4 linked regions of the Homo sapiens genome follow. The protein of the gene in region 2 purifies or fractionates together with the protein of the main gene of each other region. This does not show direct contact. Each region holds a gene or a part of one and is shown on either strand. Other genes may lie near its edges.

Region 1 (7,366 bases), on a different chromosome or scaffold from region 2:
GTTGTGGCTGGGGTTTTGTATGTATCTGTGGGGTTTTGGTTTTATTTCTGTTATATCCCGACTATACTGCCCCACCCTGCCCAGACTCCTGCAGTTGCTGAAGTCAGGCCTGTCCCCTGCCCACACTTGGCACTGGGCATAAAGCAATTAGGGAGGAAGCAGGGAAGGCCCTCTGCTGCTGTTGCAACTGAGTACATGCTGTGAGTAAGAACACCTCTTGTTTAGTAGCATGTCAATGGCCTGTTTTTGTCATTTTCTTCTTTCTTGCACCTTCTCTTCTTTGACATTGGTAACCTCCATCACCCCTGTGTTTTAGGCTGGAGATGTTACTGTCCTCTGTAATAGGACTGATCCTAAATGTTTCCTTCAAGAGATTAAGGAGCTAGTATCTCATCACAATTAGATGCCTCAAACATTAATTCGGATATCTGGTTAATTCACTCAACCCAGCCACTTGCACACCCACCACCGTGTGATGTGCCGCTGTACATAGTAGGTTTCTGACCACTGAGTTAAAGTTCCTGGCTACTGATGATACACTGCTGAGGTGTGTTCCCCAGTTGTTTACTGCGTAGTTGCAGCCAGCCACCCTTTGATCCACCCAACCTTTAACCCCAATTTGCTACCACCCAGGAGGAGCCAGTGGAGAGACTAGGAAAATCTGGTTTGCTATAAAATGCCAGGTGTTCTTCGTGTGTGGCAAGGACAGTGGGATCAGGCTGCACTGTAGGGACTTTATCATGAGGCAGCCACGTGGGGGGTGTTCACCCTCAGGTACCAGTGACAAATACCAGATTATTGGAAACCTATATTTCTTCCGCACATCTGTCCGTTTTCTCCTCTGGAGCAATACTCTTGAGACTGGGCAGGTAAGCCACAGCCCAGGTCCCACATGACCAGGTGGCAGGGATGGCTAAAACCACAGTCCATTGTTTTCCAGCATCTCCTAAAATGAGAGCACCCAGAACAGAAGGGGCGCTAAATCACCACCCCCCTAACTAGCGATTGGCTTGTGCGAGTTGTAGACCACCTGTTGGCCTTGTGGACTGGCTTGATGATACTGAAAGTGTGGCCACAGATGGTTGTTGAGCTGCATTGCTGACCTCCAGGAATGTATAAGAAAGCCTAAAGCAAGCAATTAAACAGCCACTGGAAGTGATAACACTTGGGAGTTTGATTATCCTTATGTCAGAAGGAAAATTTGTATTTTCTCTTTATTGTCTATAAAAGATAAAAATTTAGATAAGGGCAACTTAACTTTTAAAAATCTCCAGTGGCAATAAAAAAATCTTCATTACCACATTTCTGTTGAATTGTATTTTAAAGTTCCTAATAAAATGACATCATTTACTGGGAAATGCTTCTTTTTCTTTTGAAAACAATATGACTTCAGCCCTGGGTATTTTTTTATTTGTTTCTTAAGATGATTTTTCTGTTTATCTCATACATCCTTGAAAAGAAGCTACAAAAATTTTTTTTGTTTTTTTTTTGTTGTTGTTTATTGACAGTCTTGCTCTGTTGCCCAGGCTAGAGTGCAGTGGCACGATCTCAGCTTACTGCAACCTCCACCTCCCAGGTTCAAGCAATTCTCATGCCTCAGGCTCCCAAGTAGCTGAGACTACAGGTGTGCACCACCATGCCCAGCTAATTTTTATATTTTTAGTAGAAACAGCATTTTACCATGTTGGCCAGGCTGGTCTTTAACTCCTGGCCTCAAGTGATCCACCTGATTCGGCCTCTCAAATTGCTGGGATTACAGGCGTGAGCTATCACACCCAGCCTAAGCTGCAAACATTTCTTAATCCAAGTGCACAAAGACTATCTCCATCTCTATAACCACTAAAGCCAGCCATTTTTAGAATCTGTTTGGGATATGTGGCTGTTTCCAACTTTTCTTTAGGAGAGTTGTTTGCAGGCTTTTTCGCTCCATAGCTCTTCCCCCAAGACTGTCGGTTCTAAACTTGCTTCTCCTCCTCATTCGCTGCACATATACCCCTTCCCCTATCTAAATAAATTGCAGACTTCTAAAATTTAGAATGGAGAAAAACTGGTACATTCTTTGTCCTGCACAAGAAAGAGGTGGTAACAGGAATGTCTGAGAAAAAACGAATGGCCTAGTGACTCTGTGATGCAGGAAAGGTTGCCAGTCTGCAAATCATAGAAACTGAGGACCCCATCCTAGTAGCTGCTACTCCTGGAAAGTCTCCACGTTCTCTGTGGAGTCCACTCCATGGCTCACTCAGTTTCTGCAGATGGAAAGTCCCCGGTCGTCCTTTCTCATGTTTCCCTCTCTTCCCAGGGCAGGATAGCGTGTGCCAATGTCCTCAGTGACCTCTATGCAATGGGGGTCACGGAATGTGACAATATGCTGATGCTCCTTGGAGTCAGTAATAAAATGACCGACAGGGTAAGTAGGAGCTACCCGGCTGCTGCCTGGTCCGTGTTGTCCCGGTGGCATCTCTGGCCTTGGTTAGACTTGGTTTCCCATCTAGAAAGCGAGGAGCCCAGGCCATATGGCTCCCTGCACTCCTTCTGGCTCTCCACTTTTTGGCAGTTACCAGTAAATTAAAATGAGGAAGCCTGGCCTAGTCATCTCTGCACTTCTGCCACCTGCTCCCTTTCTCTCTTCCCAGTAGACTGAAACCAAGACTTTTTTTTTTTTTTTTTTTGAGACAGGAGTCTCACTCTGTCGCCCAGGCTGGAGTGTAGTGGCGCAATCTCAGTCCACTGCAACCTCCGCCTCCCGGGTTCAAACAATTCTCCTGCCTCAGCCTCCCAAGTAGCTGGGATTACAGGCACGTACCACCACACCTGGCTATTTTGTGTATTTTTATTAGAGACGGGGTTTTATCACGTTGGCCAGGCTGTTCCTGAACTCCTGACCTCAGGTAATCCACCTATCTCGGCATCCCAAAGTGCTGGGATTGCAGGCGTGAAACACCGTGCCCGGCCCAAGGCATTTGTGTATATTTTTTTTTGTTTTATTGAGACAGAGTCTCACTCTGTCACCCAGGCTAGAGTGTAGTGGCACAAGCTCAGCTCACTGCAACCTCCACCTCCCAGGTTCAAGCGATTCTCCTGCCTCAGCCTCCCAAGTAGCTGGGATTACAGGGGCACACCAGCACCCCCAGCTAATTTTTATATTTTCAGTAGAGATGGGGTTTCACCATGTTGGTCAGGCTGGTCTCGAACTCCTGAGCTCGTGATCCACCCACTTCGGCCTCCCAAAGTGCTGGGATTATAGGCATGAGCCACCGTGCCCGACCTGTGCATTTTTTAAAATAAAGTTTTGGCCATAGTAATGGTGCCTCAGTGTGAATCAGGCACAGCCTTACAGATGTGGGACACGTGGCACTTAGAGGGCACTCCCTCTGCTGTGGCTGGGGATGTCGTGGACGTAGATGGTGACGGGGGATAGGGCCACCAGGGGCTCACGCCTCTGTGTCATCGCCTAGCATTCTGTGCCCTTGCTGCCTGAACCTGTTCTTTGAACCAGAGATGAATTCCTATTTAGATAGACAGGTACTTGTTTTTGTCCCAAGAGCCCCCAACAGTTTGCCCTGCCTTAGAGAAACTTGAGTTTCCAGTAGGCTCTTTCCTGCCCTTGAACATGGGCTGTAGTCATCAGTGGTGCATGGTGGTCTTGGCGCAGGCTCTGTCAGTGTGGGTTACTCGTAGCCTGCAGCCAAGCCTTGGTAGGATGGATGCCTACTGCAGGGCAGGGGACCTGTGCTTAGGAAGCCAGTCTTGAGATTCTCAAGGAGCACTGGACAGCTGGCTTCCAGCAGTCATCAGACCTAGGGCTGGTCCTGTGCACTGAGTCCAGACAATGTTGGTGTCTGGGCTTTATTTACATTGTTGTCTAGAACATCTTCCAGCATTGGATAAAATGATGACAATGTGAAATATTTTCTAGCTTTTGTTTTTGTTTGTTTTTGAGACAAGATCTCCCTGTGTTGCCCAGGTTGGAGTGCAGTGGTGTGATGAGAGCTCACTGCAGCAGCCTCAGCCTCCCGGGCTCAAGACATCCTCCCACTTCAGCCTCCGGAATAGCTGGGACCACAGGCACATGCCACCACACCAAGCAATATTTTTTTTTTTTGTTTTTGAGATGAAGTCTCACTCTTGTGCCCAGGGCTGGAGTGCAGTGATGCGATCTTGGCTAACTACAACCTCTGCCTCCCAGGTTCAAGCGATTCTCCTGCCTCAGCCTCCCAAGTAGCTGGGATTACAGGCGCATGCTACCACACCCGGCTAATTTTTGTATTTTTAGTAGAGACGGGGTTTCACCATGTTGGCCAGGCTGGTCTCAAACTCCTGACCTCAGGTGATCTGCCCGCCTCAGCCTCCCAAAGTGCTGGGAATACAGGCATGAGCCACTGTGCCCGGTCACCCAGCAATTTTTACATGTTTCGTAGAGAAAGGGGTCTGTCTGCATTGCCCAGACTGGTCTTAAACTCCTGGGCTCAAGCTCTCTGCCCACCTCGGACTCCCAAAGTGCTGGGATTACAGGCGTGAGCGATTATGCCTGGCCCCTAACAACCTTCCCTGTCTGTAAACTTTGAGGACTTCCTTTAGGATTTTATGGTTCTTTTTATAACTGTAAGTGTAAAAACCTTCTTTTCTGGGTTTTGAACAGAATTCTTTGACTTTTTATTTGTACCTTTTTCAACCTTAGGAAAGGGATAAAGTGATGCCTCTGATTATCCAAGGTTTTAAAGACGCAGCTGAGGAAGCAGGAACATCTGTAACAGGCGGCCAAACAGTACTAAACCCCTGGATTGTCCTGGGAGGAGTGGCTACCACTGTCTGCCAACCCAATGAATTTATCATGTAAGTTGATTTTTGTTTCATATCACCTGACCTGTTTTTCTCTCTCTGTCCTCTCTTTTTAAAAATTGATGTATTAAGGTCAGGTGCAGTGGCTCACACATATGATCCCAGACTTTGGTAGGCCGAGGCGGGCAGATCACCTGAGGTCAGGAGTTTGAGACCAGCCTGGCCAATGTGGCGAAACCCTGTCTCTACTAAAAATACAAAAATTAGCCAGGCATGGTGGGGCAAGCCTGTAGTTTCAGCTACTCTGGAGGCTGAGGCAGGAGAATCGCTTGAACCCCAGGGGTGGAGGTTGCAGTGAGCTGAGATCATGCCCCTGCACTCTAGCCTGGGCAACAGAACAAGATTCTGTCTCCAAAAAAAAAAAAGACAAGAACGCAAGGCTGGGCGCGGTTGCTCATGCCTGTAATCCCAGCGCTTTTGGAGGCCAAGGCGGGTGGATCACCTGAGGTTGGGAGTTTGAGACCAGCCTGACCAACATGGAGAAACCCCATCTCTACTAAAAATACACAATTAGCCAGGCATGATGGTACATGCCTGTAATCCCAGCTACTTGGGAGGCTGAGGCAGGAGAATCACTTGAACCCAGGAGGCTGCGGCTGCAGTGAGCCAAGATCGCGCCACTGCACTCCAGCCTGGGCAACAAGAGCGAAACTCCATCTCAAAAAAAAAAAAAAATAGATGTATTAAGATATAATTTGCGTACTATACCATTCACCCATTTAAAGAGTCAGTGGTTTGGAGTATACTCAGAGTTGTACAGCCATTACCGGAGTTGATGTTAGGATGTTTTCATTGCTACAGGAAGAAACCCCATCCTCCTCGGCTCTCACTGTTCACTCCTGCTCCATCCTGGATTTTGTCACTTAGCATAGTATTAGCATACTTTTAAGGGTCATCTATTTTGTAGCATGTGTCAGTATTTTAATCCTATTTTTAAGACATTTTAGGTGTTTTTGTTTTTTTTTTTTGAGACGGAGTCTTACTCCGTCGCCCAGGCTGGAGTGCAGTGGTATGATCTCGGCTCACTGCAAGCTCCATCTCCCGGGTTCATGCCATTCTCCTGCCTCAGCTTCCCGAGTAGCTGGGACTACAGGCACCTGCCACCATGCCCGGCTAATTTTTTGTATTTTTAGTAGAGATGGGGTTTCACCATGTTAGGCAGGATGGTCTCGATCTCCTGATCTCATGATCCGACCGCCTCAGCCTCCCAAAGTGCTGGGATTACAGGCGTGAGCCACCGCGCCCGGCTGACATTTTAGGTTTTTTAGTTGAAGTATAATTCACGTAACAAAATTTCACATAACATAGAATTCAGCATTTTGAAGTACACAATGTGTTGGTTTTTAGTATTGACAAGGTTGTGCACCCATCACCACTATCCAATTCCAGAATGTTTTCATCACCCCAAAAAGAAGCCCTGTAGCTCACTCCCATTTCCCTCCTGCTCCCATCCTCTGGCAACCAAGAATGTGCTTTTGTCTCTAAGGATTTGCCTGTTCTGGACATTGTATAGAAATGGAATCGTGCAGCATGACATGCTGTGTCTGGCTTCACTCCCATAGCGGAATGTTTTCCGGGTCCATCCGTGTTGTAGCATGAATCGGTATCGCATTCCTTTCCATGGCTGTATAATCCATTGCATGGATGGACCCTGCTTTATTTAGCCATTCCTCAGGTGACGGACCTTTGGGTTGTTTCCACCTATTAGGAATGATGCTGCCATGAACATTCTAAGTTTTTGTGTGGACATAAGTTCCGGTCTCTTGGGTGTATACCTAAGAATTGACTGGGTCATGTGGTAATTATGTTTAACTTGAGGAATCATCAGACTGGTCTCCAACATGGCTGCGCCATTTTACGTTCCCAGCAGCAATGTATGAGGATTCCAATTTCTCTATGACCCCTCCAGTACTTGTTTTCCTGTCTGTCTTTTGGATTCTAGCCAGCCTACTGGGTGTGAAGTGGAATGTCTTTGTGGTTTTGATTTGTGTCTGCCTGATGACTGATGAGGCCGAGCATCTTTTCATGTGCTTACTACCCATTTGTGTATCTTCTTTGGAGAAGTTTCTCTCCTAACCAAGTTGTCACTTTCCATGTTTGATGTCTTGTTAAGAAAAGTCAGTCTTTTGGCCGGGCGTGGTGGCTCATGCCTGTAATCCCAGCACTTTGGGAAGCCAAGACGGGTGGATCATCTGAGGTCAGGAGTTCAAGACCACCCTGGCCAACATGGTGAAACCCTGTCTCTACTAAAAATACAAAAAATTAGCCGGGCACGATGGCAGGCGCCTGTAATCCCAGCTACTCAGGAGACTGAGGAGAGTGGTTTGAACCCAGGAGGCGGAGGTTGCAGTGAGCCAAGATCGTGCCACTGTACTCCAGCCTGGGTGACAGAGTGAAACTCAGTTTCAAAAAAAAAAGATCTAGAATTAGAAATACCATTTGACCCAGCAATCCCATTACTGGGTATATACCCAAAGGATTATAAATCATGCTGCTGTAAAGACGCATGCACACATATGTTTATTGC
Region 2 (7,366 bases):
ATACGCTGGCCTGGAAACTTGCACAGTCTCATCATGTCAAACAAGTGTTGGTTGCCCCAGGAAACGCAGGCACTGCCTGCTCTGAAAAGATTTCAAATACCGGTAATCATGTTTTAAAGTGGGGAGTAATAGTTATTATTTGTTATTAATGGTATGCTGTCAACCATATCTGTACTTTATGTTAATAAAGATAGGCTGGGCACAGTGGCTAATGCCTGTAATCCCAGCACTTTGGGAGGCCGAGATATGCGGATCATGAGGTCAGGAGATGGAGACCATCCTGGCTAACATGGTGAAACCCCGTCTTTACTAAAAATACAAAAAATTAGCCGGGCGTGGTGGCGGGTGCCTGTAGTCCCAGCTACTCGGGAGGCTGAGGCAGGAGAATGGCTTGAACCCAGGGGGTGGAGCTTGTAGTAAGCTGACATCATGCCACTGCACTCCAGCCTGGGCGACAGAATGAGACTCCATCTCAAAATAAAATAAAATATAGACTACTATTCAGGGTTGAGTGCTTTCCTTGACCTTAAAATTTATTTGGTAATTTGAATGCTTGCCAATATGTTATAAACTTAAGGTAACCTATTGTTCAGAATATGGCATTTCCTTATCTTAAACTGTTTTAAACCTGATAAAACACATCCATTGGAAAAGTAGTAAGTGCCTAATACAGATTAAAGGCATTTTGTTGTGTATTTTTGTAAATGGAAAGTTTAGTATTGCTATTAAATACAACTTGCGGCCACGTGCAGTGGCTCACGCTTACAATCCCAGCACTTTGGGAAGCCAAGGCAGAAGGATCTCTTGAGCCCAGCAGTTTGAGACTAGCCAGGGCAATGTAGTGAGACCCGATCTCTACAAAAAAAAAATACAAAAATTAGCCAGGCATGGTGGTGCACATCTGTAGTGCCAGCTACTTGGGCAACAGAGTAAGATGAGAACCTGTCTCACAAAACAAAGTTTTTAACAGTTGTTACTCTAATAGATCTCAACCCTTATCTCTCTCTGACTTTTTTTTTTTTTTTTTTTTTGAGACAGAGTCTCACTCTCACCCATACTGGAGTGCAGTAGCGTGATCTCAGCTCACTGCAACCTCTGGCTCCTGAGTTAAAGCGATTCTTCTGCCTCAGCCTCCCGAGTAGCTGGTACTACAGGTGCATGCCGCCACACCCAGCTAATTTTTTGTTTTTTTAGTAGAGACCGGGTTTCACTATGTTGGTCAGGCTGGTCTCAAACTCCTGACCTCAGGTGATCTGCCCGCCTCAGCCTCCCAAAGTGCTGGGATTACAGGCATGAGCCACCGTGCCCAGCCTCCACCCTTATCTCTCAATTGGCAAAAATGAAAAAATGGTCAGTTCATATACTACATTAAGCTTGTCAGTGGCTTCAGAAACTCCTCAGTATTCTAATAATACTCAGAATAAAACTCAAATTCCTTACCATGCCTTTCAAAGCCCTTTGTGCAGTCTGTCTTCTGCCTGCTCTTCCAGCCTGATCTTTTATATCCCTTTTTCTCTTTTCACTATACCCTATCCATGCTGTCCTACCAATTTCCCAAGCAGAAGCTTGCTGCTTTGGACTTTATATTTGTTCCCACCCCTTACTATGACTGTCTCCTCATTATTCAGAGCTCCACTTAAATGTTAGCCTCCTTAATTATATCTCTCCTACAGTTTCTTACTAAAAGCAAGTGTCCATCCCCATTTCATTTGTTTATGATCATGAATGTCTGTGTTTATTTTTACTTCACTATTGTCTGTCTTCTATGTTCTTTTCCTCCACTAGAATATAATCTCTAGTAGAATGTAAGCTCCATGAGGGCAAGGAACTTGTCTGTCTTGTTTTGCATGGTGTGCACAGTGCTTAGTTCCCTATGTGGCACATAATATTTATGGAAAGAAGAGCATGGACCCAACAAGCCACAAACTGGGAGAAGATAGTGGCATGTATATAAGACCAAAAGGAATAATACAAATTAGCAAATACCTCCTTTTCTGGGATCTTAATTCTACGGGTGAGATATTTGTTTATTAGAGAACTAGGACAGTTTATCTGCGATTGAGGTCATACAGGCAAGCCCATCAAAATCTCTTAAGATCATCATGAGACTACTACAAGTAGTCTTGTAAGACTACTAAAGAGACCTCTTCCTCTTGTTGCCCTCTGCTATACTGATATAGTTGACGCTGCTCAGCCTAGTTGTGTTCAGAACCACTAACCCACAGTGCGTGGTACTCCATCCTAATCACATTCAGGCAGTTGCTGCAGATTGAGGACCCTACCTTTTCTGGACTTGGACCCTATACAGTAGTCACCAGCCTATCCACAATTTTACTTTCCACAGTTTCAGTTACCCACAGTCAGCTGTAGTCCAAAATATTAAATGGAAAATTTCAGAAATAATTCATAAATTTTACATTGCACACCAGTCTAGCATAGCATGATGAAATTTTGTGCCGTCCAACCTGAGACGTGAATCTTTTTGTCCAGCATATCCATGTTGTTACTTACTAGCCCTGTTGGTTATCAGATTGACTATCATATTATCTCAGTGCATGTGTTCAGGTAACCCTGTTTTACTTAATAATGGCCCCAAAGCTGATGCTGGCATATAGTTATAATTGTTCTATTTTAGTATTAGTGATAGTTAATCTCTTACTGTGCCTAATTTGTAAATTAAACTTTATCATAGGTGTTTATGTATAGGAAAAAACATACTATATATATAGCGTTCAGCACTGTGGTTTCAGGCATCCACTAGGGATCTTAGAATGTGTCCTCTAAGGATAAAGAGGGACAACTGTACATCACAAATATCACTTCTTGTACTCTGTACCAATGGCAGAGTGATTGCACACTTCAGCTGACTTAACGAATGGTGGTCCAGGCACAGTGAAGCAGGAGAGCCCCTATGGAGCCAAACCATGTTCAGTATGTGGTTGATCCTACCACTAGTTACTTAGAACTCCACAGAAGAAAATTTACCTGACTTGCAGGTTGGAGAAGACAGGTTCCTCTTAAAAGCGTCATTGAGTTCTTAACTTAAACAGCTCTGCCCCAAAGAGATCCCTCCTGACCCAACCCAAAATAGCCTCTCAATTCACTTCATATCAAATTTGCTTAATTTGTTCATATTTGCTGTTTTTTTGTTTGTATGTTTATTACCCAGCGTTCCTACAGCGTATTGTAAACATGTTAAGTATAGGGACCCTGCTTGTGTTGATAAATTTTTTTTTTTTTGAGACAGAGTTTCGTTCTTGTTATCTACCCAGGCTGGAGTGCAGTGGTGCGATCTTGGCTCACTGCAACCTCCGCCTCCCCAGTTCAAGCGATTCTCCTGTCTCAGCCTCCTGAGTAGTTGGGATTACAGGTGCATGCCCCCACACCCAGCTACTTTTTGTATTTTTAGTAGAGACGGGGTTTCATCATATTGTTCAGGCTGGTCTCGAACTCCTGACCTTAGGTGATCCACCCACCTCGGCCTCCCAAAGTGCTGGGATTACAGGCGTGAGCCACCGCGCCCCGCCGTGTTGACATCTTAATACCAGTGCTGAGGACAGTACTTAGCACATAGTGGATTTTCAGTACAATTGATTGATTGACATTAAAAGACCAATTTCTGAGTATATCTTACGTTTTTTGTTTAATATACAGTCAATATTAGTGACGTGAACAATATCATGGAGGTGATACTTTATGGCTCTTTGGGAAGTTTATTGGTGTTTTCATCTGTCTACAATGATAACGGAGAACTGAGCTCTGTTGGTTAGCCTAATGCACTCTCCTCTGAATTTCACATGTTGAAACTGTCATCTCTGCCAATATAAGAAAACCAACAGATAACAAGCATACTAAAGTATAGAACTTAGTTTTTTTAGTGAGACACTTAGTTTACTTAAGTGGAATGTTTTTGTAAATGCAGTGGTTTTTTTTTTTTTTTTTCTGTTTACAGCCATCTCAATCAGTGACCACACTGCCCTTGCTCAATTCTGCAAAGAGAAGAAAATTGAATTTGTAGTTGTTGGACCAGAAGCACCTCTGGCTGCTGGTAAAGTTTGTTTCTGTTTATTGTTACAGTATATTCAGTGCAAACAGAAGCTTAGGGATCATCTAATCCAATTCATTTTACAGATGAGAATTTGTAATATTATCTTGGAAAAAGAGCTTCCACTCTCGAAATTTATGGAGTCTAGATTTTTTTTCCCAAGCATCAGTTATATGATGAGTTAGAGATCAAATTTGCAGCCATGGAAAACATTTTATATGTCTTTATTCTGCTGTATTCTGGTGTGTGTTTAATAATCCATATATGCAAATATAACAACTTTTGATAGATTTGAATAACATGTTAATAGCATTTTATCTCTATCCAGTAGACAACATGAAAAAGTTAGTTATCCTCTGCCACCAGTCATCTGCCTTGTCTAGATGTAGATATAGTCTGATACTAATTCGTCTTCAGGCTGAAAAGCCCCTGGGGAGACCTTGGTTCACCTAAGGCTACTGTTTTCATCAATAGGGATTGTTGGGAACCTGAGGTCTGCAGGAGTGCAATGCTTTGGCCCAACAGCAGAAGCGGCTCAGTTAGAGTCCAGCAAAAGGTTTGCCAAAGAGTTTATGGACAGACATGGAATCCCAACCGCACAATGGAAGGCTTTCACCAAACCTGAAGAAGCCTGCAGCTTCATTTTGAGGTAGGTAAATGGTTGTCTGTGAAGGACAGTTGTTTAGTTTTGATATTTAAATACACAGGTCAGTGGCCAGGCACAGTAGCTCACCTGTAATCCCAGCACTTTGGGAGGCCAAGGCAGGTGAATCACTTGAGCTCAGGAGTTAGAGACCAGCCTGGGTACCATGGTAAAACCCTGTCTCTACAAAAAATACAGAAAAAAAAAAGCCGGGCATGATGGTGTGCACCTGTAGTCCCAGCTCCTCTAAAGGCCAAGGTGGGAGGATCACTTGAACCCAGGAGGCGGAGGCTGCACTGAGCCAAGATTGTGCCACTGCACTGCAGCCTGGGTGACAGAGTGAGACCCTGTCTCAAAAAAATTAAATAAATATACAGGTCACTTCTGTGTTGAAAATGTAATGCTAGGTCTTTAGGCTGTCTCAAGATGTAGTAAGATAATTAAGGAAAAAACTTTCTCAATAAATATTATGTGGGTTGTCGTTTTCCAGAACCAAAATAAAATGGGATCCTATGCATACAGAGTTTATATGATCTTGTGGCCTTGCAGGAAGATGACATTTTTAATAAAATCTGAGTAGTTCCTCAGGGGAAAAATACACTTGGTTCTGCAGTTGTGCGCTCTTCACAGCCATGTTTTTGGTTTTTGGTTCCCCGCCCCCCACCACCACCCCCCAACCTGAGACGGGGCCTCTCTCTGTCACCCAGGCTGGAGTGCAGTGGCGTGATCTTGGCTCACAGCAGCCTCTGCTTCCTGGACTCAAGTGATCCTCCCACCTCAGCCTCCCAAGTAGCTGGGACAATAGGCACACACCACTACTCCCAGCTAGTTTTTATATTTTTTGTAGAGACGGAGTTTTACCATGTTTCCCAGGCCGGTCTCAAACTCTTAAGCTCAAGAGATCCGCCTCTCTCTGCCTCCCAAAGTGCTGGGATTACAGGCATGAGCCGTAACACTAGGCCTCACGGTCAGATTGACAAACGCAGTGGCATCTTACAACATAAAGAACATTGATTTTTTTTGTCATAAATAATTAACCAGAGTGAGTAATCATCACTTGGTCATCTGCCACCACTATTGCCATTTTATTTTATTTATTTATTTATTTATTTTTATTTTTATTTATTTATTTATTTTTTTTTTTTTGAGTCTCGTTCTTTCACCCAGGCCGGACTGCAGTGGCGCTATCTCTATCTCGGCTCACTGCAAGCTCCGCCTCCCAGGTTCATGCCATTCTGCTGCTTCAGCCTCCCGAGTAGCTGGGAATACAGGCGCCCACCACCACTCCAGGCTAATTTTTTGTATTTTTAGAAGAGACGGGGTTTCACTGTGTTAGCCAGGATGGTCTCGATCTCCTGACCTCGTGATCCGCCCGCCTCGGCCTCCCAAAGTGCTGGGATTACAGGCGTGAGCCACCGCGCCTGGCCACTATTGCAATTTTAAATTTCAAAATTAAACATCCTTTGTTCTCTATTATGTGGAAAGCATTGAGCAATTAATGAGTGTTAGTAGACACATGCATTTGCCCTTTTTTTGTTGGCACTTCTGCTTCCTGGTTATGTTTTCCTTTCAGTTGTGTCAGTTTCATTTTTTTTTCATTCATATCCTAAAGAGTTTCTTAAACACTGAATATTATTATTTCCTAGCAGCCAGATGCCTTGAGCAAGTAACAGTTTTGTTACTTACTTTGGGTAAGTCTCCTTCCAGACCCCCAGGCCCACTTGATAATTTCATATGTGTACTCCCAGAAATGGTCTGTGTATGCTTACTGTTGTTATACAGCCGCATTTTCTACCTGAATGAGAGTACTATTTGCTACTTTGTATCTTAGAGATTATGCCATATCTACTCTATACATCTACTTATTCTTCCAAAGATATTGCCTATGTAATCTCATGATAAATGAAAAAAGCAAAATTGTAGGTACTGTATGATTGGAACTACAAAGGAATACGTAGGGGAAAAAATCCTGGTGGGAAGTACATCAAAATGTGTTGGAATGATAATTAATTTTTTTCTTTCTGCTTTTCAGTCATTGCTATAGCATATCGTTACAAAATCCCACAGCATTTTAAAATCTTGAGTTGTAATGGTTTATTGGATGTTGACGATTACTCTGTCTTTACAGTGCAGACTTCCCTGCTTTGGTTGTGAAGGCCAGTGGTCTTGCAGCTGGAAAAGGGGTGATTGTTGCAAAGAGCAAAGAAGAGGCCTGCAAAGCTGTACAAGAGATCATGCAGGTAGGCTGGGTCTTCTGAAAAAATTTACTTTTCTATTCATACTGAATAAATACCGTTTTAAGTTTAAAAAATGTTCCTCACAATAAGGAAAATCTATTTTGCAAACATATGGGTAAGTTATTTTTTATAATCCCATGTATTATAATCCATCTCTATAAAATAGTTATGGATTTACACTGTAAATTAAACCATGATTGTATTATTTTGAAGTAAATTGTAACATCCTTTGTTGTCTGCCACTGAAAGAAAATCCTCAGACTCTAGAACATATAAATAAATTATCAAGCCATCCATGAGGACAAAAGTATTTGTCCCACATGTCCCGGGTCTAAGAGAAGTAAATTAATGAATGAATATGCCTTGTCTTTCGTGATCGATCTTTGTTGTTGTGGGTTTTCTGTCCTTGTAGAAGTCTACTTTCACAAGCATGCTTTAGTA
Region 3 (7,366 bases), on a different chromosome or scaffold from region 2:
GCCAATGAGTCAATATCCCTTATGCATTCCTCTTATATTTACTACTCCCCAAATGTCGCCTTACTCTATGATTGTTGTGCTCCATTTATTTTATTCAGTCAAACTTACTAGTTGCCTGTTGATCTAGAAATGCCCTCCACCCTTCAGAATTCACGGGATCTTGGCCAGTCAGAGTAGAAATTCTTTCCTCCTTCCCACAGTCCGAGACCTCTTGTCCCCAATGGCATGTCACAGGGCCTGTTTCATGTTGCACTCTCCCTGACCTTCATGACAAAATAAAGTAAAAGGAGCCCAGGAGCCTAACTTCTATTCCATCTTACCAAAAGCATATCATTTAGATTCTTCTTTAAGAAAAAAATTTCTTTTTTTTTGGAGACAGTCTCATTCTATTGCCCAGGCCAGAGTGCAGTGGTGAGATCTCGGCTCACTGCAATCTTCACCTCCCAGGTTCAAGCGATTCTTGTGCCTCAGCCTCCCTGGTAGCTGGGACTACAGGCACGCACCACCATGCCCAGCTAAATTTTTGTATTTTAGTAGAGATGGGGTTTCACTATGTTGCCCAGGCTGGTCTCAAACTCTTGAGCTCAGGCAATCCACCTCCTCAGCCTCCCAAAGTGCTAAGATTACACACATGATGAGCCACCACAATTGGCCAGAAAAAACTGCCTTTTTTTTTTTTTTTTTTTTTTTTGAGACAGAATTTCGCTCTTGTTGCCCAGGCTGGAGTGCAATGGCGTGATCTCAGCTCACCGCAACCTCCGCCTCCCAGGTTCAACTGATTCTCCTGTCTCAGCCTCCCAAGTAGCTGGGATTACAGGCATGTGCCCGGTAAGAAGTTTCTTTTTTAAAAAAAAATCTAGGCTGGGCAAGGTGGCTCATGTCTATAATCCCAGCACTTTGGGAGGCCAAGGAGGGTGGATCACCTGAGGTCAGAAGTTCAAGACCAGCCTAGGCAACATGGTGAAACCCCATCTCTACAAAAATACAAAAATTAGCCGGGCATGATGGAGGGTGCCTGTAATCCCACCTATTCGGGAGGCTGAGGCGGGAGAATTATTTGAACCCAGGAGGCGGAGGTTGCAGTGAGCCGAGACTGTGCCATTGCACTCCAGCCTGGGCAAGAGTGAGACTCCGTCTCAAAAAAGAAAAAAAAAAAAATCTACTATTCTACAAGTGAAATGTCAATATAAGTTTCACATAGATAAGTGGAAGTCACAGGTATAGATATATATATATAGATATAGATTTTTTTTTTTGAGACGGAGTCTCGCTCTGTCACCCAGGTTGGAGTGCAGTGGCGCCATCTCGGCTCATTGCAAGCTCCGCCTCCTAGGTTCACGCCATTCTCCTGCCTCAGCCTCCCAAGTAGCTGTGACTACAGGCGCCTGCCACCACGCCCAGCTAATTTTTTTGTATTTTTAGTAGAGACGGGGTTTCACCGTGTTAGCCAGGATGGTCTCAATCTCCTGACCTCATGATCCGCCCGCCTCGGCCTCCCAAAGTGCTGGGATTACAGGCGTGAGCCACCGCGCCGGGTCAGACATATATTTTTTGAGACAGACTCTCACTCTTGTTGCCCAGGCTGGAGTGCAGTGGTGTGATCTCAGTTCACAGCAACCTCTGCCTCCCAGGTTCAAGTGATTCTCCTGCCTCAGCCTCCTGAGTAGCTGAGATTACAGGGCCCCACTACCATGCCTGGCTAATCTTTGTTTATTTTAGTAGAGATGAGGTCTTGCCATGTTGGCCAGGCTGGTCTTCAAACTTCTGACCTCAAGTGATCCGCCAATCTCTGCCTTCCAAAGTGTTGGGATTAAAGGCGTGAGCCATCACGCCGGGCCATAGATATATGACTTGGAATAATTCTATAAATATGGCAAGGTATTTATGCTCGGTGCTTCATCCAGAAAAAAATAGAAGGTGAGCGCTATCCAACTGCTACCTTTTAGCAAAGCTATCTGCTACTCAGCTTTCTTTACCCAATTTCCTACAGAATAGATAGTTTTCACTTTAAAGCACAAATGGAACAACCCTCCACACATCTCCGCTAATAAAGAGAAGGCAGAAGATGAAGAAAATTCCTTAACATACCAGTTCAAATTGTCCTCTGGGTGGACATTCAAGGAGAAGCCTCAACACGGGCAGAGTCAGAAGGGACCCAAAATGCACCAGAGGAGTCACAGACTGTCTACACAAAGCAGCAGCACTCCCTACTGTTCAGGCAGGGACGGACACCAGCCAGCAAGCTGTGCCTGGCTATGCAGCTGGCTATGCCTTATTCAGTAAGGAAGAAAAAGCAAGCAACCAATTCAATCCCTACAGAAATCCCATCACTGCAGGCAGAAACATATTCACTTGGAAATACTTGTCTCAACGGTGAGTTGGAAATTTATTTTAGGTCCTTAAATGAGAGGTGTCACAATCTATTACATCTACCTAACCTTCACTTATCCCTGGGGAGAGGAGACCCAACAATGAAGCTACTTCTGGGAAACATGCTTCTCTGAAACCATTCTGAGGATACAAGTCACTGGCTTTTCAGCATTAGCCAGAGGCTTGTTTTCATAACATATCCCCAAACCCACCATTTTCCATCCCTCGGTTCCCTATTCTGTGACATCTCCCACTATAGGGACACCAGCACCCATCAAAAATTTAAAACTGAGGAACTACAATTAAGGAAAAGGCTGCTTTGCCCTGGCGCAGTGGCTCACGCCTGTAATCCCAGCACTTGGGAGGCCGAGGCGGGCAGATCCTGAGGTGATGAGATCAAGACCATCCTGGCCAACATGGTGAAACCCGTCTCTACTAAAAATATAAAAAATTAGCTGGGCATGGTGGCATGCAACTGTAGTCCCAGCTACTCAGGAGGCTGAGGCAGGAGGATAGCTTGAACCCAGGAAGCGGAGATTGCAGTGAGCCGAGATCGTGCCATTGCACACTCCAGCCTGGAGACACAGCAAGACTCCATCACAAAGAAAGAAAGAAAGAAAGAGACAGACAGAAAGAGAGAAAGAAAGAGGCTACTTCCTAGGCCGGGTGCAGTGGCTCACGCCTATAATCCCAGCACTTTGGGAGGCCAAGGCGGGTGGATCACCTGAGGTCGGGAGTTCGAGACCAGACTGACCAACATGGAGAAACCCTGTCTCTACAAAAAAAAAAAAAAATACAAAATTAGCCGGGCGTGGTGGCGCATGCCTGTAATTCCAGCTACTCAGGAAGCTGACTCAGGAGAATTGCTTGAACCCGGGAGGCGGAGGCTGCAGTGAGCCAAGATTGCGCCATTGCACTCCAGCCTGGGCAACAAGAATGAAACTCTGTCTCAAAAATATATATATATAAAGGCTGCTTCCTGAGTTTTTTTGGGTGGAGTGGGGTGGGGTGGAGATGGGAACTAGAGTGGGGAGGAGCCTGGATTGTCAACGGTATTTCACTTCTCAAAGTTGTCTTGGTTCCTTAGTTCAACAGGTGGTTAACTGTCTCAGGGCAAACTGTCCAAGGAAGAACTCTCAGGACAGAAACTCCAAAAACAAGAGAGGGTCCTGCTTGCCCCTCACACTCTCTCCAAAAGTAATATTAGAATCAAGAGAGATGGTTAACACTGCTTATCTGACAATCTGGCCTCCCCACACAAATTGTAAGTCACATGCCAATAGAATTTCACGTCTCAGAATAAGACCTGAGAGTCATATATTCCTCCTATTACCATTCTCAAAAGCCTCAACCACTCATATTCTTACCCATGGTGAGGGTAAAACATAGGAATTGCCATTTTGATCCGAATGGGAGAAGGAAAAACAGTGTCACTCCAATAAAATGAATAGCCTGTTAGGATAACTGCACTTTGAATTTTGTTCTTACTTCAAAAGTTTAAAAGAATACCTGGAAAGACCTCTGAGTAACTTCCACATCACTCAGTGCTGGAGAAAGGGGACCAAAGACTAGTGCAGTAAGGGAGAAATGGGCTCTCAGAGGGACTCTGCATCAGGCCACAAAGCAACTAGGCAACTGCTGACTATTGTTCTCCAAACTTCTAAAGTCCCGAAGAACAAAAAAGCAAGTGCCCAGTACTCAGCTTTTCAAAACCATTAAAATACAAACTTCAATGACTAAACTAATCCCTGATTGGCTGGAATGTACAATAAGGCTGGGCTTTCGGCCAATCAGAGTTCTGTTTGTTGGGAGTGGACTGGACTCTAAGCAACTGCCACTCACTTGGCCCTATATTTTCTCAAAATTCTTGTTTCTCTGGCACTAGTTAACATGTGGATCTGAACTAAAGCACTAAGAGAGAACCTTTCTCTGTACTCTACCTTTGCTCCAGTTATGATTATCTACTTTGCCATCTGTTAGTATCAGGGTTCAATTAATTTGCCGGTATTGAGAATTCTGTATTCCTAGGTTTATCCCTTCCTTAACTTATTTCTCCTCCCATCTCCCATTTCTTCACATCTGACTACACTTAGTGCACAGCAAAAGGAAAATAGTGTTTCTCACTGATTTGGGTTCCAGGTCAAAGATAAATTCCCACTCAGTTTGGAGGCTTACTGAAATGTCTAGGTGCTTGCTCTGAAACTTCAAGAGGAAGATTAGAAGGACACATTCCTAAGAATTTAAAACCAGGTAAGGAAGAAAGCTGGGGAGGCATGCCCACAAGCTCTTCAGTTAAGTGAGGCCACAAACTCAAAAACACCATGCAAAGCTGCAGCAAACGAACAGCAACTACAGGAAACCCGGGACATGAATTGAGAGTTCAGTTGTTCCCATTAACAATCTGAATAGAGAAATAAAAGGCAAAATCCTAATCGCAAAGAGTGTACAATACCTAGGTAGTAAGGGCCTAATAAGAATTGCTCTTATTTGTGCCCATCAGGAAAACATACAGAGAAGTTAAGTTTATCAGCTCAAGGAATCAGGTAAGGATGTCCTGACTCTTAAGTCTATGGATCCCTTGATTCTTTTAGATCTTGTTGTCCAGTCACACTAGGTATATGCTGAGACACGTAAGTGTTTTCTCTTTGAAAAACAATTTGAGGTTGGGTGTAGTGGCCCACGCCTGTAATCCCAGCACTTTGGGAGGACAAGGCGGGCGGATCATGAGGTTAAGAGATCGAGACCATCCTGGCCAACATGGTAAAACTCCGTCTCTATTAAAAATACAAAAATTAGCTGGGTGTGGTGGCACACGCCTATAGTCCCAGCTACTCGGGAGGCTGAGGCAGGAGAATCATTTGAACCCAGGAGGCGGAGTTTGCAGTGAGCTGAGATCACACCACTGCACTCCAGCCTGGTGACAGAGCGAGACTCCGTCAAAAAGAAAAGAAAACAATTTGAAATCCCTCAAGTTTACCATAAGAAAGACTCCCTATAGAGATCAAGCTGTTTCCCAGCCCAGGAGATATAACAAGAGATCCTTAATTCAAGACAGGTATTCCCATATTAGGTAAAGCAGTCAGCAACTTCCCAGGAAAATATAAAGCCTTAAGTTAGTTGAAATGTGAAACATCTGAAGTTTAACCCTCTGGCTCATAAATAGCTTTGCCTGTTTTGGTGAGCAAAGAGAAATAATCTTCATGCATAGAATCCTGATCTGTTTTGGAGTGCCAACTAATATATCTTTTATTTTAGCCCCAACCCTTTTTTTTGAGACAGGGTTTCACTCTGTCACCCAGGATGCAGTGCAGTGGTGTGATCGCAGCTCACTGCAGCCTCGACCTCCCCCAGCTCAGGTGATACTTACACCTCAGCGTCCCAAGTAGCAGGGCCTACAGGTATGCACCATCACACCCTGCTAATTTTTGTATTTTTTTTTTACAGAGATGGGGGGCGGGTTTCACCACGTTGCCCAGGTTGGTCTCGAACTCCTGGCCTCAAGCAATCCACTGGCCTCAGCCTCCCAAGGTGCTGGAATTACAGGCGTGAGCCACCGCACCCAGCCTTAAATGTTTTTATAGAGACTAAGTCTCACTATGTTGCCCAGGCTGGTCTCAAACTACTGGGCTTAAGCGATCCTCTCATTTTGGCCTCACAAAGTGCTAAGATTACAGGCATGAGCCACTAAGCCTAGCCTTATTTTAGTTTCTTGGCTGCTGTAAGGGAAACAGAACTTTGTCAGAGTGACATGCAAAAAAATTGAAATCCATCTCTTTTCTCTACAGAAACACTAAAGCTAAGGAAATAAAACATGTAGCCATTTAAAATGCTGCAATCGTGAAGTCCGTCTTAAAAGCTCCTCTCATTTTGCCCCCCTATGGGACTGTGACAACTTAGCAGCAGCAGGACATGTCTTAAGCCAAGACGTAAGGAAGGAAGGACTCCTTACAAAGCTGGACCTCACAAAAACGACCCGAGAGACTCATTAACTCTTGATCCCTAAATGAACTGGTAGGAGGACCATAACAACAGAGGCAGGAACTTGGCCAAAGAACTCTAACCAAGCCAGACAGTAAAAGGGCATTTGTAAGGGATGCCCCTATCACTGCCCTCTGCTATGGCCACACAAGAGGAATCCAGGACACATGAAAAACATAAAACCACCTCCCTCCAAAGCTTCTAAATCTCCATCCCATTTTCAGCACTGGAAAAATCATACATAAACAAGGCTTTTTCATACTAACAGAGCCTAATGTTTATTCTTTTTTTTGAGACAGAGTTTCACTCTTGTCGCCCAGGTTGGAGTGCAATGGCACGATCTCGGCTCACCGCAACCTCCGCCTACCGGATTCAAGTGATTCTCCTGCCTCAGCCTCCAAGTCGGTGGGGCTACAGGCATGCACCGCCATGCCTGGCTAATTTTTTTTTTCTATTTTTAGTAGAGATGGGGTTTCTCCATGTTGGTCAGGCTGGTCTCAAACTCCCGACCTCAGGTGATCAGCCTGCTTTAGCCTCCCAAAGTGCTGGGATTATAGGCATAAGCCACCGCGCCCGGCCAATGTTTATTCTTCTAAGGATGTCTGATATGGCAAAAAGTTAAACTGATTTTTTTGTTTATTTCACTTATTTTCCTTTTTTTTTTTTGAAATGGAGTCTCACCATGTCGCCCAGGCTGGAGTGCAATGGTGTGACCTTGGCTCACTGCAACCTCCGCCTCCCGGGTTCAAGCGACTCTCCTGCCTCAGACTCCCGAGTAGCTGGGATTACAGGTGCCCACCACTACGCCCAGCTATTTTTTCTATTTTTAGTAGAGATGGGGTTTCACCATGTTGGCCAGGCTGGTCTCAAACTCCTGACCTCGTGATCCGCCCACCTCAGCCTCCCAAAATGATGGGATTACAAGTGTGAGCCACTGCACCCAGCCAATTTTCCTTTTGATTTGTGCAAAAAAGTGGTATATAATAAATAACTATGTTTAAGTCTGTCGAAAACAGTG
Region 4 (7,366 bases), on a different chromosome or scaffold from region 2:
GGTCCTTGAATAGTCTTCTCTGAAAAAACATAAAAGATACTATTATTACACATATATTCAAAACATAAGGTTACTCTGCCACTTACTATAAGTCAAGTAATAAAGTAGCTGGAATCGGTTTGGTTGTTTTTGAGATCTACATTATAAAGGGGATAGCAGGGTGTCAGTGAGGGAATAGCTCATAGGCCTCTTCTATTGCTGTATAGGCTGGCCAAAGTGAAGAATGACACCATCTGAACAGGTGTCTTTCTTGACTGGGTGGTCCCTCAACTGGTGCAGGGAGAACCAGTTAATATAAACTAGGGGTTTAGGGACACGTCTTCAAACAAGAGTTGAAGGAAAGTTTAATTAATATAGTGTCCCCCAAATTTTAAGGCCCTTTGATACATTTTTTAACATAATCTCTTAAGCAATTCATTCTTTGATAAATTTATAAATTATCCTCCTGTTTCCTAAAGCAGAGATTTGTTAACCTAGAATCCAAAATTGTATGTATTTGCAATTTTCTGAAAAGAGTTCTAGAATTCATTAGCTATCAAAGGAGTCTGAGTTCCCCCAACCTCCCACTCCCCCAAAATTAGTAACTACACTTCCATAGCAACAACCTGTACACGAAATAATCAACATTTTTTTCCAGTTGAGAAACATTTGGTTGTAAACCCAGGGCTCCATTATTTTAGATCACTGCTATACCATTATTTTTTATGTACTATATTCTGAAACTGTTCTTTAATTTCCTATCTGACTGCCTCCCAGGAAAGGGTGGCAACTAAAGATTCCCGGGAGAACCGGCTATTTTAACCTCCCGCCTCCTGTAACTGTGGGGGCCTATTTTCTATTGGAGTATATTAGAAGCAATGCTCCAGGGGCTTCTTACCAGGTAAGGATGCCAGAGGTTCTCATCATTCTAGTCTTTGTTTTCTTTTCATACTTGCATTTTTAATTATTTCTCCCTGCTCCTTTCTTTTCTAAGCTTCTAGAATACCTTAAGCTCTTTGGAGGTGAGTATTAAGAAAGCCTAGCGGCCAGGCGTGGTGGCTCATGCCTGTAATCCCAGCACTTTGGGAGGCCAAGGCAGGCGGATCATGAGATCAGGTCAAGACCATCCTGGCTAACACAGTGAAACCCCGTCTCTATTAAAAATACAAAAAATTAGCCGGGCATGGTGGTGGGCGCCTGTAGTCCCAGCTACTTGGGAGGCTGAGGCAGGAGAATGGTGTGAACCCGGGAGGTGGAGCTTGCAGTGAGCTGAGATGGCGCCACTGTACTCCAGCCTGGGCGACAGAGTGAGACTCCATCTCAAAAAAAAAGAAAGCCTAGTATATCATGTGTTTTTCCCTTAGAAAACTGACAAAGCTCTTTTTTCAGCATTATTAGTCTAAAGTGTGTAATTACTTTTAGCAAAATCAGAAATACCTGAAATGTCCATATTACTTGTGGTTTACCTTCATACTCAGCTTTAATCCTCAGAGTTTCATCTGGTCCTTTATGCGCAGATGTTACTCGAAGTTCACATGGAATGCCAAAATTTCCACAGGCCTTCTTGATTTTTTCACAGTGACCAAGATCAGAAGTAGAGCCCATCAACACTACAACCCTGCACTGACTTTCTGATTTCAAAAGCAACTGAAGAAAAAATACGTGGATATGAAAAGAACATAAAAACAAAAATGAATAAATGAGCTAGAGTTTGTAGTAAAATTATATCTGGGCCCAATATTTTCTTTCTTAACAGATCAAATTTAAGACAGAGACAAACAACAAAAAGACAGGATTTATTTTTAAAAATCTCAATATATAAAGGAAAGTGGTCTTCATCAAGACCTAAAGAATTCAATTTTTATCAGACAAATTATTTAAAATAAACAGTAAAGATACTCAAAATCTTTTAATTTTCAGGAAATTATAATACAAAATATTTCATCCTAAGACCTTTAGTGCACTTTGTTTAATGGAAGCTTTAAGGTATGATTAGCCAAATCAGAAGTCATGTTCTAAGTCTTTGTAAGTTAATTGCTTGTAACTCAAAATATATATTCCTATAAGAATAATGTTCTCAAATGTGATTATGACCCTTGCATAATCACAAACCCCATTCAACTCCCAGAATTATAGTAATACCATAAAACTTAAAGGAATATTTAAAGTCACACAGAGTTCCATCCATCCCATGCTAATGGAACTCTGACTAGCAGTGCAGGTGAGTAGGAAATATAAGGTTTCTCCTACGGGGTAGGGAGGAGACAGATTCCAGGTTTCCCCAACAGGATCTGGGAGGTATGTATTGGCCAGCTTAACAGCACGGAGTTCCAGTATCCTAGTAAGGATAGCCCAGCTGATACATTTCCTAAAAGTGTTCCTCACTTTCAAAGTCACTGAAGAGCTGGGCGTGGTGGCTCACGCCTGTAATCCCGGCACTTTGGGAGGCCGAGGCAGGGGGATCACGAGGTCAGGAGATCAAGACCATCCTGGCTAACACGGTGAAACCCCGTCTCTACTAAAAATACAAAAAATTAGCTGGGCGTGGTGGCCAGCGCCTGTAGTCCCAGCTACTCGGGAGGCTGAGCTAGGAGAATGGCGTGAACCCGGGAGGCGGAGCTTGCAGTGAGCTGAGATGGCGCCACTGCACTCCAGCCTGGGCGACAGAGCAAGACTCCGTCTCAAAAAAAACAACAACAAAAAACAAAGTCACTGAAAAGAAAAGCACTATACTCTCCCATTTTTTTTTCTTTTGAAACAAGATTTTCTTAGAAGAAAAACACATAATACATACAGTTTTACTATAGAAGGTTTACCTCTACTCTCTCTGCAACCCACTCAAAGTTTTTCTTTACCATTTGGAGCCCTTCAGGAGTTACTTCTTTGAGGTCCCGATAAGACTAGAAAATAAGATAGAAAGTTTAGAAAACAAGTATCTCTTGCTACCTGAAACTATTTGGTTTCTGAGTTTTGGGGAGGGATTATGAAGAGTTTGTATAGCAAGGGATACTTCTGAAAATGCATCTTTTCACTTCCTGAATTAAACTAACAAAGTTCCATAGTAAAGTATACTTTTATTTTCACTTAAGGTTAAGTGTTTTCTGTACTAGCAACTACAATTAACTGCCTTGAGAATTTTTATATATTAAGTATAGAAAGGGTCTTGCTCTAATTTTGTTTTCTGTTATTTTTTATTTTAAATACATGTGCAGAATGTGCAGGTTTGTTACATAGGTATACATGTGCCATGGTAGTTTGCTGCACCCATCAACCTGTCATCTAGGTTTTAAGCCCCATATGCATTAGGTATTTCTCCTAATGCTCTCCCTCCCCTTGCTCCCCACCCTGCAACAGGCCCCGGTGTGTGTTGTTCCCCTCCCTGTGTCCATGTGTTTTCAGTGTTCAACTCCCACTTATGAGTGAGAACATGTGGTGTTTGGTTTTCCGTTCCTGTGTTAGTTTGCTGAGGATGATGGCTTCTAGCTGAATCCATTTCCCTGCAAAGGACATGATCTCATTCTTTTTCTTTCTTTTTTTTTTTTTGGAGACAGAGTCTCGCTCTGTCAACCAGGTTGGAGTGCAGTGGCACAATCTCGGCTCACTGCAACCTCCACCTCCCGGGTTCAAACAATTCTCTGCCTCAGCCTTCCGAGAAGCTGGGATTACAGGTGCCCACCACCATGCCTGGCTAATTTTTTTTTTTTTTTTTTTTTGAGACAAGGTTTCACTATCTTGGCCTGGTCTTGAACTCCTGACCTTGTCATCCACCTGCCTTGGCCTCCCAAAGTGCTGGGATTATAGGTGTGAGCCACCGCGCCTGGCCAATCTCATTCTTTTTTATGGCTGCATAGTATTCCATGGTGTGTGTATATCACATTTTCTTTATCCAGTCTAACACTGATGGGCATTTGGGTTGGTTCCATGTCTTTGCTATTGTAAATAGTGCTGCTCCTGTGCACGTGTCTTTACAGTAGAATGATTTATATTCCTTTGGGTATATACCCAGTAATGGGATTGCTGGGTCAAATGGTATTTCTGGTTCTAGATCCTTGAGGAATCACCACACTGTCTTCCACAATGGCTGAACTAATTTGCATTCCCACCAACAGTGTAAAAGCGTTCCTATTTCTTCATAGCCTCTCCAGCATCTGTTGTTTCCTGACTTTTTTAAAACAGCCATTCTGACTGGTGTGAGATGGTATCTCATTGTGGTTTAGGTTTGCATTTCTCTAATGATCAGTGATGATGAGCTTTTTTTCATGTTTGTTGGCTGCATAAATGTCTTCTTTTGAGAAGTGTCTGTTGTTTTATATAGGAGCAGAAATGTGGCCTGGTAACATGCAGGAGACTTGGAATAGAGTCCCAGATCTGTCCCTGACTCTAGTAATTGTGAAGATACCCATCCTCTTAAGACCCTTAGTTTTCATTTAGCCAAACAAAGATAATACTTGCTGTTACTGTTGTGACAATGTTATTAAGATAACAGATGAGAAATTTGCTTTATAAATGTAAAGTATTATTCCTATTATTCTTCTATTAGGATACCAGAGACATTTATCTTTAAAAATAAACAGCAATCCACAAAACAGGTTCATATCATTAGGAACAATAATTTGCTTTTTCCCCTCATCTCTCCTTTCTCCTCTATCTCAGCTTGATCTCAAAAAGGATAAAAAAACCTGAAGCATTATCTACCTGTTTGTCTTTCTGTTGGCTTCGATCTCCTGATGGCCAGAGTCTCCAGGAATCATTGTCAATAACATCAGCAAGAACAATTTCTTTGGTGGTTACATCAACACCAAATTCAATCTGGAAACAGCATGTCAACAAAGTTTTCAAAAACTATTTTATGAAAGCATCTCTCAACTATAACCTTTACTTTCAAATCCTGTTGTTTTATCTGTACTTGTTTTATCTGTACCTTCATATCAACCAGTGTACAATTCTGGGGCAACCAGGATTTCTCCAGTATTTCAAATATAGCCTGTGTAGCATGACTCATGATATCCACTTCAGTCTGGCCTATAAGAAGTCCAGCAAAGCAAAATTTTGCAGCAATCAGCTGTTCCTCAGACCACTGTGGGTCATTATTGGCATCATCCTGTGAATAAAGTATAGTAGTACAATTAACTTCAATCTAAAATTTTTAAACTTTTCAGAAAAACCAACATCCTTTTCACCTTGAGCATGAACTCCTTAGAAATTTTTAGCCACAGCCGGGCATGGTGGCTCATGCCTGTAATCCCAGCACTTTAGGGGGCTGAGGTGGGCGGATCACAAGATCAGGAGTTCGAGACCAGCCTGGCCAACACAGTGAAACCCTGTCTACTAAAATTACAAAAAATTAGCTGGGTGTGGTGGTGTGCACCTGTAATCCCAGCTACTTGGGAGGCTGAGGCAGGAGAATCATTTAAACCCGGGAGGTGGAGGTTGCAGTGAGCTGAGAGAGCGCCACTGCACTCTAGCCTAAGCAACAGAGGGAGACTCCATCTCAAAAAAAAAAAAAAAAAAGAAAAGAAATTTTGATCCAGGTGCAGTGGCTCACACTGTAGTCCCAGTAATTTAGGAGGCTGAAGCAGGAGGATCGCTTGAGCCTAGGAGTTCAAGAGCAGCCTGGGCAACAAAATGAGACATCTAAAGAAATTTTTTGTTTACGATACTCCTTAATTCAAAGCAATTATTACTCCTCTTTTTTTTCCTAGTTAGCTCCTGCAAGCAGAAAAAACTATTACTCTTAATTTGTTTACTCTCAATAGCACTTTAAAATTCAAAGTATTTAGGTGAGTAACTTATTCTAGGTCACAAAGTATTTCAAAGAATTTAACCTCTATAAACCAATTTAAACAGAATTTAAGTTTGTGATTTTTGTTTTTCCTTAATAACAGTCATCAGACATGACAGGAAGGCCAAAGCACATTTTAATCAATCAAATCTTTCCAAAACCACCGTTCTCATAACCTCCCAACCTCACTTTTTATTAGAATTTATACAGCACTATAATTTTTTAGGGACATTATTTGATAATTCAAGAGACCTCAGACAAAGAGGTAAGTGAAAAAAATGAAATAATTTCATTTTATTCTCAGCAGTGTCCCAACTTTACATGACAATATCTTTATAAATTCTTGATCTATATAATCATAATACACACAAGTTACATAACTCATTGATTAAAAAGCAAGACTGATATTGCTTCCCAAGCAGATCTATGCTTAACAGCATAAATCAAGATGGTTAAAAGCAGTAAAGCCTACAAAATTCATAACCACTGATTCTTACAACCTTTATTTATATATTTTCACTTACAAGAGACATTGTTAGTATAGTTTTCCTGTATTAGAATATAAAAAGATTTCAACTAAATTTTAAAAAAATTAACTAAATGTTACTTTTCTCTTCTTCCTGTTAGTCATCTTGGTTCAAAGGTAAGATTTTCAGATGCTTTCTTTTTAAAATTTGATTTATCATTGTTAATGGAAGTGTACATTATTGACATTGGCAACTAGATAAGACAAATTTTGGAATGACATTTGCAATATCAAAATATCAAAAACTTTGCTTGAATATTTAAACCTTTAGAGTTTCTAATTATAAATTTATTGCCGTGTTACAGTAAGACATAAAACAGAGGCATAAGATAATTACCTTGAAAAACAACTCCACTTTAGGTGGGTAAAACTTATATCCTTCCTTGACACCAGGATTTCTTTTGAGAAAAGAACCAGTTGCTATTCTTCTGCAAACCCATTCAATTGGAATCATTTCACACTGCGGTGCAATGAAAGCTGTCTCCCCACATTTTCTGGTGAAGGCAGTTTTAATACCTACATATTGATAACCAAAGTTAAAAAAGGTATTGAAATGATATGTAAAAAGGTAGATCTGAGGCACAATAAAACTCTACCCTTTACAAGCAACAAAGAACCTCTATCAAAAATAAGTGTAATTTTTCTCTTTATTTAATGTAGATGCGGTCAGTTGTTGACTCAAACAGTAAGCAGCACATGACTATACATACAATGTATTGTTCAGCCATAAAAAGGAACGAAATTCCTGATACATCCATGCTATATAATATGGATGAAGCTTAAAAACACTAGGCTAAATGAAAAACACAAAATGCAAAAGAACAAATACTTACGATTTGACTTATATGAGGTAACTAGAATAGGCAAATTCAGACAGAAAAGAGAATGGAAGTTACCAAGGGCTGAGGAGTGGGAGGAATAGTTATTGTTTAATGCTACACAGTTTGTTTGGGATGATGAAAAAGTTCTGGAAATGGATAATGGGATGAATGTACAACATTGTGAATGCACATAATGCCACTGAATTGGACACTTAAAAATGGTCAAACTGGTAAATTTTATGTATTTATCACAATTTT

What was found.
Region 1: the proteins of GART (region 2) and SEPHS1 fractionate together in Homo sapiens (co-fractionation; 2 studies listed by BioGRID). This does not show direct contact.
Region 3: the proteins of GART (region 2) and DNAJC7 purify together in Homo sapiens (affinity purification with mass spectrometry; 2 studies listed by BioGRID and IntAct, with this or other methods). This does not show direct contact.
Region 4: the proteins of GART (region 2) and PAICS fractionate together in Homo sapiens (co-fractionation; 2 studies listed by BioGRID). This does not show direct contact.

The regions. Positions count from the first base shown.
Region 1 is NC_000010.11:13,331,284-13,338,649, reverse strand, and holds part of SEPHS1 (selenide, water dikinase 1), read left to right. Parts: intron 1-2,299; coding exon 2,300-2,407; intron 2,408-4,678; coding exon 4,679-4,833; intron 4,834-7,366. UniProt on the Homo sapiens protein: Synthesizes selenophosphate from selenide and ATP.
Region 2 is NC_000021.9:33,531,907-33,539,272, reverse strand, and holds part of GART (trifunctional purine biosynthetic protein adenosine-3), read left to right. Parts: coding exon 1-102; intron 103-3,952; coding exon 3,953-4,048; intron 4,049-4,519; coding exon 4,520-4,694; intron 4,695-6,816; coding exon 6,817-6,928; intron 6,929-7,366. UniProt on the Homo sapiens protein: Trifunctional enzyme that catalyzes three distinct reactions as part of the 'de novo' inosine monophosphate biosynthetic pathway.
Region 3 is NC_000017.11:42,007,172-42,014,537, forward strand, and holds part of DNAJC7 (dnaJ homolog subfamily C member 7), read right to left. Parts: intron 1-7,366. UniProt on the Homo sapiens protein: Acts as a co-chaperone regulating the molecular chaperones HSP70 and HSP90 in folding of steroid receptors, such as the glucocorticoid receptor and the progesterone receptor.
Region 4 is NC_000004.12:56,446,132-56,453,497, reverse strand, and holds part of PAICS (bifunctional phosphoribosylaminoimidazole carboxylase/phosphoribosylaminoimidazole succinocarboxamide synthetase), read right to left. Parts: intron 7,142-7,366; coding exon of another isoform or gene 7,121-7,141; intron 6,804-7,120; coding exon 6,625-6,803; intron 5,081-6,624; coding exon 4,901-5,080; intron 4,789-4,900; coding exon 4,675-4,788; intron 2,880-4,674; coding exon 2,796-2,879; intron 1,627-2,795; coding exon 1,446-1,626; intron 1-1,445. UniProt on the Homo sapiens protein: Bifunctional phosphoribosylaminoimidazole carboxylase and phosphoribosylaminoimidazole succinocarboxamide synthetase catalyzing two reactions of the de novo purine biosynthetic pathway.